2 separate regions of the Homo sapiens genome follow, and region 1 is linked to region 2. The links come from fine-mapping of genetic effects on gene expression. A gene starts in region 2. The other region holds a variant in brackets. All regions are shown on one strand. Distances are from middle to middle.

Region 1 (5,373 bases), 24 kb before region 2:
CTCAATCACTATCCATGCCCTCGTTGGTCTTCTTCTCTGTTCTTTTTTAACATCTAGCATCCCACTGAAGTTACCTTTTCTTTATAAAACAGCGTCTTGTACCATGTAGTGCATGATAGTATGTTTATCTTGTCTTATTGTCTGGCTCCTAAATCCCATAAAAACAAAATCATTTAAGATGATGCTAAGCCCAAAGAGGACACTGAGTTGATTAAGGTTAATCAGAAAATTTAGAAATTTTTCCTCTCTCTGTAACTCAAAGTCCTACATCTATATGAACTTCTGATGAATTCTGCTCAGTCAGTTATCTCTTTGATCTTAATTATGACAGATTTTCCCAATATTTCAGTTCATTGTTGAACACGGTTGCTCAATATATATTTGTGGATGAATAAAAGAATGTTTTTCTATGGTTTTAAGATGACAGTAAGAAATGATTTTCAGTACCATGTGAACAGCACATATGGGTAGTGATTGGTTTTAGGCATTTGCCAGTTCCTCCCCAAATTAAACTTAATGAGAAAACAACAGCATCTCCCAGACCCAGCAAGTCTTAATCTTGCCATCTGGTCTGATAAGGAAGTCAAGAAACATTAGTAGATGGTAGTGATTGAGGACAGATCGTACTATTAGTACTTTTGCTATCTTCTTCCACTCTGAATATTCACCCTTATTTATCCATCTTAGTACAAAGGCCTTCCAAGAATAATACTTGATTCTTCAGGAAATAATTTGTCTCTTTGTTTCCTACAAGTCTCATCCCTAGAAATATTAATATATCTCAACAGAATGTCTTGGTTAATCTTCCTGAAATTTGATATCAAATCCTATAAGAACCATTTGAATCTGAGTGACATCAACCTTTAGAATATAATTTTGTCTTATCATTTCTTCTGTATCATGGTCACCCAGAGATTCTTCTCTGTACTGCAACACATTTGGTGCAAAAGTTTGGCCATTTTTTCATGCCAACTGCAACCTAAACTCCACTTGCTTGCCCAGACAGTCACTTAATGCCTATTCCTTAATCCTCAGGAAAGCTGAGCTAGACCCAAATGGCAGCCTTAATGAAACAGGAAAACAGATCCTGGTCAGGTAAATAATGGAGAAAAGAAATTGAGAGTCTTTTGACAAAGAGGATAAGACATTTTGTATTATCTCCATGCTTTTAAAGAATGCTCCTTATATAACCCTGAAGCCCTCCCAAGCTCAAATCCTTCAATGGTTCCCCTCTGCCTAAAGCATACAATCAAAACTCCTTAACATGACATACAAACCCCTTCATGATCTGGCTGCTACATAAACCTCCAACCTCATCTTTCACTCCTTTTTTCCTCAGTATTACACAACATTCTACCTCTCTTGGATTATAAAGGCTTGGCCAAAAACAGTTCTTTAAAGTAAAAGTCCTAAAGAACTGGAATGTAAAAGAAGAAGAAAGTCAAAAAATAAAAACAAATCTGAAGCCAGAAAGAAAAACTTTTTAATATTATCAGATTATATGCCATTACTTTACTCTAGATATGCCAGGACCTTATCTAAGAGACAACTGGACTGGCAACTCCCTCTGCAGTCACCCAAAATTCTACCAGGAAGAATAAGGGAAGGAAGATCACAGCCAGAATCATCTCCTTCCTCTCTACTGAAGGAAAAAAATAACTGGCTGTGCACCATGCAATCTATCACACACATTATCAAGTATAAACATACTGTAATCATGGATACACTGACCAAACTGTTCTGTTTTTTAGATTTGTTTGTTTTTCACTTCAAGCTCTTTCTATTAGCTTCTATTAGCCTCTTCAATATGTAGACTCTTAAACCTCAGGGCAGTTGATAAACTGTAGATTATATAACAAAACCCATTATTGTTCATCACTGAATCCACCATAAGCCAAAGCCAGTCACAAGGCGATGGAGATTTGCTGAGGCTTACTCCATTATATCAATATCCCAATGGAAACCTTGGGGCTCAATGGTTCTATAAGCTCCTCCATTAACTAAATTTGGCCTGCTCAGTCCTCCCTCTGTTCTGTTGTTAACATGTCCCTCCAGTCTACCATTCCGTCTGCCGCATAAGTAATCCTTTTTCTCAACACTTTTATCCTTTGCACAAACCCCTGACTCCCACTACTTCTGCCCACACTCTCATCCTTAAGCAGATCTGCTCTCATCCACCCTCAGAGGCAGAGAGAAGGATGAGCACTTTCTCAGCTTCTGCCATTGCTGCTTTTACACCACTGTTCCTCCACTTCCATGAAAACAACTCTCTTCTTTCAGTGTTCATGGCTTTCACTATTCCTATTTTCTACCTGGCCCTGCAGGTGACACTCTTGAACTTTTTTCATGAATCTGAAGCCTGATTTACAGCTTTTTCAGAGATTCTCCCAACCTGTTCAGGATCACCTCTCCATGTTATTGACGCTTGTTCCAACACAACCTTTTGGTTACTTTACTTTCTGCTCACTCCATGATTCTATCCTCAGTTCCCTTCATCCACCCAATTTTGCAATAACAGGCTTAAAATTCCACCAACTCACCCTGAAATCTGAAACCCTCCTCTCTATCACATACAATCTTCCCAGCTCATCCACTTCATATCTCTACTCTTATTTTACTTTTAT[G/A]GTGACTTGTAGTCTTCACCCCTGCTATCCATTTTTCTGAACATCACTTCCATTATGGGTTCACTTGCCTCCCTGCTTCTCCGGGTACCATGGCCAATGATTCCAATAATATATTTATGGTTACTCTAGATGTCTTACCCTCCTGACTGCTGGCCAAGTGTGCCTTGTCAATTCCCCAAGTTCAATCTCCCTACATTTGCTTTCTCTATTCTTATTCCTGGGTTCTTAAAACTTGCAGAAAGGCACAAAAGAGTGTTGCTATTTCCCCTACAGACACAAGCCATTAACATCAGGTAGCTCTTGGCTGCTTTCTGGAAACTTTCTGTTCTCTTCTTATAGATTCAGCTCTCCCATAATCTAAAGCTCCTTGGAACAGACTCTGCATAAATAATTTTCTTACCCCTTCTCTTAACTAGCACGCTTAAAAACAGTCTACAATCACTACATCCATTTCTTCATTCTACACTCACTCTGTAATAGAACCTATTGGCTCTGCTCCTACCACACTAATGAAATTTCTGGAGGTTCATCAATTTTATTCTTTTCTTTTTAACTTCTTAAACTCCTCGACTCTAATAAACTTCTGACCTGGCCATGTAGCCTTCTGATACCACTGCAGACCTGACTGGGTGACTCATGACTGGCTCAGGCATTTCTCTCATGCAGCAGAGGTGAGCTGGACATCATAAAAGCAATAAAGGCACCCACATGGCTGCAGACCACCGAGCCAACTCAGGCCCTACCTAGCTATCCTAGCTATGACTCAGCTATTACTAACAAATCAACAATACTCAGGCACTGCTTTCCTAATGGAGAACAGAGACAGTTCTTTGTCTTTCTGCTCACAGGAACCATCCCATTTCTCCTCAGAGTCTGCACTGGATTCAGTTCCCTGTTTAGTGGTAAACCTTTGCTCCTCAGTACCCAACTCTCTTTAGTAACTCTTTTCACTTACATCTTCCTGCGGATGTCCTTAAAAGTGATGATACTGGTATTGTAACATTTTCTATTTTTATTTCAATATTGGTCAAAATTACTTCTCACAAATTTTCAGGCTCCACATATTAACCTAGCCAAAAGATTTTGAAAACCCTTGACATGGTGGTATCTCTGATGGAAATTGACTTATTTAGACAACCAGTGGAATTTCACTGAGTATCTATCATTTTCTACATACAACATGAACTGCAGATCTTACAAAGATGGTGCCTACCTTCAAAGAGTTCACAGTCTAAAGGAGCTGGCAAGAAAGCTCTATGAACAGCAGAAAAACAGCTGTGAGAGATGAGTGTAAAAAGTTTTCAAAAAGTAGAGAGGAGGAGGATGACTATCACTTCCTAGGGTAGGAAGGAAGCCTCTACTTACATTCCTAAATAGATTGTAATCCAACTCTTTTGTTACTATTTATTTTAGTTTCTCTATGGACCATTATTACATTTGTAACGCAATCTTATTGGAATGTCTAATGACAACAGGACTTCTATTAGTAACGTGATTTAAAAAAAAAATAGAATACATGGTTAGAATACATTAACCTATACTCCTCTAATTCTCTCATTAAAATGAGACTTAATTTGTTTTCAGTAGAAAACTTCACAGAAGAGTCCTGTGTTTTAAGCGTATATACAGAATATCACATCTAGAAAAAATAAGCATCAGGAATGTGCATTATGTGTATATGTCTTGTACTTTCCTGGATGTGGGTATACATATATACATACCACCATTGTAAATTGTGTGTGTCCTTCCTATTGTAGTCAGTCCACACAATAAAATTAAACAGTATGTTTTGAGTACCTGTAGCAGTTTTTTGCCCAGCATCCCTTCTCTAAAACTTCCTTCTTTTTGCAATATATATTCCCATCCATGAGGTTGAAACAGAAGACACCATGTTCCTATCATAGTGACGGCAGCAGTGGGCCATCTGGAGCAGCTGCTGCCATCACACTGGCTGCATCAGGGAGGCGCGGCCAGGGCTGCCCTCTCCATGGAGCCCGCGAGAGCCAGGGACAAGCAGGAGCCCTGCCCCTTCTGAGCTGGGGTGGGGCTCCCCAGTGCTGCTGCAGCCGCCCAAACCACGCTGAAGACCCAGGTCTCCCTCTCCTGGAGCAGGCAGGAGCCCCGTCTGCAACCCCTCCCACCCCCCAACCACCCCCCATCCCCCAGCCACCCCCCACCACAGCTGCAGTCACCCAAACCACAGCTGCGGTCACCCAAACCACAGCTGCGGACTCAAGCATCCCTGCACTTTTGGGGGCCCAGGAAAGCCCCCCTTGCCCTTGCAGGCTCAGAAATGCCTGCTCCCACTGCCTGGCTTCTCCCTGCTGTCCTTGCCTGCTCCTATCTCGGAGCAAAGTCGGGGCAAGCTCCAGTGCTGTCACAGCACTGCTGGGTGTGCACATGCTCAGGGCAGTGTTGACACTCCAGCTCCCTGCCACCTCACCCCCCACAAATTTTGGGCACCAATGAGCATAGGAGGGAAGCCAAGGTGGAGCTGAGGGCAGCTTGATGCTGGCCTGCAGATACCCCTTGGCACTTATAGCCTGGGTGCCATGAACAGGCAGCAGGAGGCAGAAAGATTCCTGGGTGGAAGGGGGCGGGTCCCCAGTGAGCAGGGAACAGGCTGCCATCCCACAGACCAGAGTAGGGACTTGTGGTGCCTTTTCCCGGCCCAACCATGGCCACCCAATCAATGTACACTTCCTCCCCTCTGAGGCTTATAAGAGCCCCATGCTCAGCCAGAGCTGAG
Region 2 (5,373 bases):
AGTTCTGCCAAACATATTTTGGCATGGCTCAAAAAACAGGATTTTTCAAAAGCATTTATTTCACTGCAGCAAGATGTATCAGTAATGATATGCAACTCCCACTATTGACATTTTGACCTAAGAAGCTTGTTCCTAAACATAGTATGCAAATTTGTTTTCTATGCCTTTCCCCCGTATTTGACATAATTCTGGGTTTAAAAAATATTTTTAATCTGTATTCTTTAGAACATGTTGGAGGAAGTGGTAGAAGGGGGTTTAAAATATCCATATCTAATGTCAGGAGTAAGAAAGTGAATAATTTATACATTCACTTATAGGAGGTTTTAACTATCATACAGCTACTAAAGCATTGGGCATTTTATTTATAGGAGGTTACTTCATAGAACTCTATAAATAATAAAACTTTTGCTTACTTTCACAACACATTGCAATTTCCCCAGCCTCTTACACAATAACTTCTTCTGAGAGTTTCCAAACACCATAAGCTCTGTCTGGTCCAGGGATTAGAGAACCAAAGTTCAAGTCCTAACTCTCCACTGACAAGCCTGCTCACCTCCAGGGCCCTGGGCTTCTCCGAGCCCATTTTCTGCTGTTGTGAGAATCACCTGAGAAAAGGAGAGGCTCTGCCTCATTACTGATCTGTAACCTGCCTCCTCTTCTAAAGTTGTTGGTTTAATTTTTAAGCTCACTTTGGTTGTTCATCTGCCCTCAGTCATTTAATTAATCTAAGTTATCTTAGCAATGTGGGAATTAGAGCAAAGAACAAGAATCACTTATTCATTCAACAATATACCTGAGAGCTTACTGCCACAAGACACTCATGAGAGCTAGCATTTATGGTGGATACTCTATATGCCAGGCACAGGGGTAAGTACTTTGTAATGCATTCACTCATAGACGTCTACACCAATCCTACAAGTAGAATATTATTATTGGTATCCCCAAGTTAGAATTAAAAGTCTAGGCTCAAGAGCCAGACTCCCTGGGTCTAAATCCGTGCTTTGTCTGCTCACTCTTGGTGATCTTGATCAAGCTATGTGACACACCTGTGCCTCCATTTCCCCACCTGTAAAATAGGGAATGCTGATAATAGCGTCTACCTCATAGGGTTCTTGTCGGATTGAGTACATGGGCGTGCAATAAGCACTAGAAGTAGTCATGTCAGGAAAAGGTTAATTACCTTCCTCAAACCTCCACCAGAGTTAGATGAACAGCAGAGATTCGAACTCAGTTCTATTGGATTATGAGGTCTGAGCTCTAAACAAGTGGTGAAAAGCTCCACGGCCTCTCGGAAATTTTTTATAAAAATACAAAACTACACAAATGTAAAACGCGGCAAAGACACTAACAAGGCATTTGAGACTGACAACTAGCTTTCCCACCGCTTGGCCACTGGAATCATCTCCAGAGGCAGCAACTCATAAACAAACAACCGGAGTCGCCCTGCCTTAGCACAGAGCTGGCAGCGCCCGCGAGGCCACTTATCGCTGGCTCTGGCCTTGGCAACCTCCACCCCCGTCCCGGTCCTCTCAGCCTATCTCTGGAAACCACTCTTTTCACTCCGAATCTCAACTTGAAGTTTGGGGAAACTTGACGCAGCCAAAGCCCATCCTCTGCTCTGCACCTGGCAGGAGACTAATAGTCAGGGAAGATGGGCATGTTGTGGGTGGGGGTGGAGAACGGTGTGTCCCTGACCTGCCCTGACATGCTAACCTGGATGCGCTGTTGTCTTGGCCTTCAGCGCCACGTATTTTCCCTCGACAGTAACTTGGCAAGCTTTTCATGTCACTCTGGCATCGCTCAGATTATCAGCTACCCTTCAGAAAAAGAGCCCTGCGTTTCGATGGCTAAGGAACTCTGACAGGAAGAGGAGAGGTCCCGACTAGAGGAGGGGGCAGCATTCATCTTTTGGCACCGGTGAGTCAGTTTGCGAAGTTGGCGGCAGCGAGACCCCGAGGCATCTGGGAGACCCCGGAGTTCTGACTGCCCTACTCCGCTTTCGTTTCCTTCCCCCCACCCCTGGCTTCCCGGGTATTGGAAGCCAGCTGGGTCCCCGGGGTCGCAGGCCGCCCAGAGGTTCGAGCCGCGCGCCGGGGTGGGGCAGCGCGGGGCACCGCCTCCCTCCATACCTTCTCTCCCCGTGGAGCACATAGGAGCTGCGGAAGAAGCCCAGGAGCTCATTCTCGATGAGCGCGTTGTAGATAATCTTCAGATTGTAATTCCTCTGCGCGTCCAGTGTCCTATTCAGCACCACCACTAAGACCTGGGTTTGCGGGTAGAGGAAAAAACCGGCTACAGGGACAGCCCCGAACGCCCGGTCCTCGGCCAGCTGCACTTTCTCCACCGCCACTCGGGAAGCGTGCAGCACTACGTAGCGGGTGGCGTTCCGGCACGCGATCTCCACGTTGACCTCCCCGGAGAAGGTGAAGTTCTCCATGAAGGCGGTGAGCATCAGATTGTAGTGCAGCGGCTTCAGGTGGCCCGACAGGCGCAGCTGCGTCCACGGCTCCCACGGCTCCCGCTCCTCCTCCGACGGCGGCTGGGCCGACGTGGTCCCCGGACTGGCCACCCCACCCGCCTCGGGCTGCCAGGAGTCCCCGCCTGCGTGGTGGTTGCGCCGGGCCGATCCAGGGAGGCTCCCGTTGCCGCCGCGCTCCGGAAAGCCTGAGGGGCCACCGTCGGCGCCTGGCGTGGCACTCGCCCCGCACTCGTCGAAGCGCAGGCTGAGCAGCACAGCGAGCATTGTGACCGCGAGCAATGCCACGAGGGACACAGCGAAGGCCAGCACAAGCCGCTTGTGTACGGCGATGTGGCGCTCCGTGGTGCGGGGTCGCACTCCCACTGAGTCTGCCCACGGGTCGGAGAGCCCCCTGCTGCCAGCCCGAAGCGCGGCGTCGTCTTCCCCCATCGCGGCTGCGAAGGGTGAGCTGCTCTTCTCGGCCCCCTCCTCCTCCTCCTCCTCCTCCTTCTTCTTCTTCCTCTTCTTTTTCTTCTTCTTTTTCTTCTCCTCCTCTTGCTCCCCCAGCTCGCCGTCCAGGGCCATCACACCGCCTCCTCCTCCTCCCCCGCCCCCTCTGGCACCCCCCGCGGGCGGGCCACCCGGGCCACAGCCAGAGCAGGCATCGGAGAGCTCACGCGGGCCGAGGGCGCGCGACTGGGGATGCTGGCCCGGGTTCTTTTAAGACGGGTTCTGGACACAAGCGACGGCAGCTTCCGCGACCCCCATCAGCCCCGCCTCACTCTGGACACCGGGCTGTGAGCTCTGGGACGCGCCCAACTTGGAAAGCGTCTTGCTTGCCCAGCGCGCGCTACTTCTCGGACGAGCACCCGGCGGCGGGGCACATGCTGCCCCCGCCCCTGCGCGCCTGCGGCTCCCGGCTCTCCCTCCCCTGCGCCGCGCTCTCGCCTCGCTTTCCGCGGGAGCCTTCCAACCGGTTCTCGGCTAGGGAGAAGGACGGGAGCGGTGGGAAGAGCGAGGGTGTAGAGAGGGAAGTTAGGGCTTTCGCTTTCTCCCCCCACTCCAGCGGCGGCGTTCGGTCCTCTGGGTGGAATGTGCTCGCAGCAGCAGTGACGGCGGCCACAGCACGGGAGGCACCCGAGCCATACACCCTGCAGCTGGAGAGAAAAGGATGGCCGAGGTGGGAGAGACTAGAGTGAACCAGCAGGAGGAAGTCCCAGGGCCGCGAAGCTACGACGGAGATCCGTCCTGGAAAAGCCTTCTCCACCCTGGGCACTTTAAGCGGCGGTGGCGGCAAACGGCAGGAGGTTGCAGACCCGACAGCGAGACTCCCTCATTCCAGTCTTGCTCTGCCCTCCGGAGATGACAAGTGAGAAAGAAGTGTCCGGCCGGGCCATCCCCTTCAGGTAGATGAAGCTCTGGGTTTGCTCCATATCCCAAGGGGGAGAGCCGAAGTGCGTATGTCCGAGCGCGTGTGCATGTGTGTGCGCGTGTGTGCGTGTGTGTATATACACAGGCTTCGGGTTTAGATTGCCAGGGCTACTCCAGCTGCATTGAGGGACTGAAACTCCCAGAGAAAGGCAAAGGAGAGGGAGCGCGCGAGGAGGCAGGAAAGGCGGGAGGGAGGGGAGCGACTGAGCGGCAGAGGCAGGCACTGGGAGATTAGAGAGCTTTTCTCCGCTCTGTCACACCAGACACCCACAGCCACAGAGGGGGTTGCTGAGCCGCCTGCAAGAAGTACATTGTAAATCTTCAGCGCAACAAGCCCCGCAGTCACCCCTCTTCCTGACTCCTTAGCCCCACCGCGCTCCAGGGAGAGATCCTTGGAGCCTTTGGCTATTAACATAGAGAGCAAAAGAAGATCCTGCTAGGGAGATGTGGCTGTGTCAGATTTCACATCAAGCTCGCCAGAGGATTTGGAGGATTGTATGTAAATTGAAATAAATTCTCCAAAACCTGACTACATATATTACATTATACTGTGCGATGTGTCCAGGTGTGCAGTACTAAAATAATGTTAGCAATGAAGCATTAAAATCCTCCGGAAGTAAAGGCCAAAGCAAGGTGATGTTTTCCCCATAGGATAATTCCCATCTTTAGATTGGAGAAACGATTAACACACAATGTCTACAGTGTAACATTCAGGACCAAAACCCTGAGACTGAGAAAAGCTGGGCTTATTAGAACGGTGAACGAATACATTCCATGATTGGTCAGTTTTTCATTTCACCTAGCCATAATTACTTTCTTGCAGCTTTCCAGTGTTACCATGAACATTGTTTTAACTTTGTTAGGATAGTTATCAATAGACCAGTTTGCTGACAGCAGGCAGCATCAAAATAGGTTCATAGCCCATTGGCTGGTTATGGACTCTTGTCTGAGTATATTGGAGTTTAAAATTATACTGCAGAGTATGTATAAGTATGTGGGATATCCAACCTTCAGAATTTGTGCGAAGAACTCTAATTGGAACAATATTCAGAAAACAGCCACCCCAAAGGTGACATCTAGGAAGCAGGAGTCTCCAGTGTTTAGTAAAACAAAGTGTGATTGGCTTCTGGGTTAATTAAAAAAGTGAATAATAGAAAATTAGGTAATTCCTTTTTACATGTTTCTTTCATGTCTTCAAATCTTGAAGGCATTTTACAAATCATGTCCATAGCTATTTTCTTACAAAAAGAACTGGTTAATGCTTCTGGCTTTGGAGTACTGAAAATAGACAATTAAAATATTGTGTTTGGCTTTAAAAGCATGACCAAAGAGAAGAGACCAATTACACATTAACCTTAGCTTGATAACCACTAAAAACACAGCCCTGCTCGAGGAAGCCCTTTTTCATTTATCCCCAGATGGGATACATGCTCAATGCCATGCATTCTAAATGTCCATTTGAATCATTTTTAAATGATGATGAA

The links.
Region 1: its variant is fine-mapped to the expression of TRHDE in aorta (GTEx, PIP above 0.99).

What each region holds. Positions count from the first base shown.
Region 1 is chr12:72,294,551-72,299,923 of GRCh38, reverse strand. All of the region lies in intron 2 of TRHDE (thyrotropin releasing hormone degrading enzyme), which reads right to left. Among named protein-coding and RNA genes, the nearest start is that of TRHDE-AS1, 24 kb to the right of the region's middle. The variant G/A (reference allele first, on the strand shown) is at 2,625.
Region 2 is chr12:72,270,314-72,275,686 of GRCh38, reverse strand. It overlaps TRHDE (thyrotropin releasing hormone degrading enzyme), which reads right to left and starts at 3,317. Exons shown (of 19, transcript NM_013381.3): 1 at 2,130-3,317. The coding sequence starts at 3,043. It overlaps TRHDE-AS1 (TRHDE antisense RNA 1), which reads left to right and starts at 2,178. Exons shown (of 2, transcript NR_026837.1): 1 at 2,178-3,864.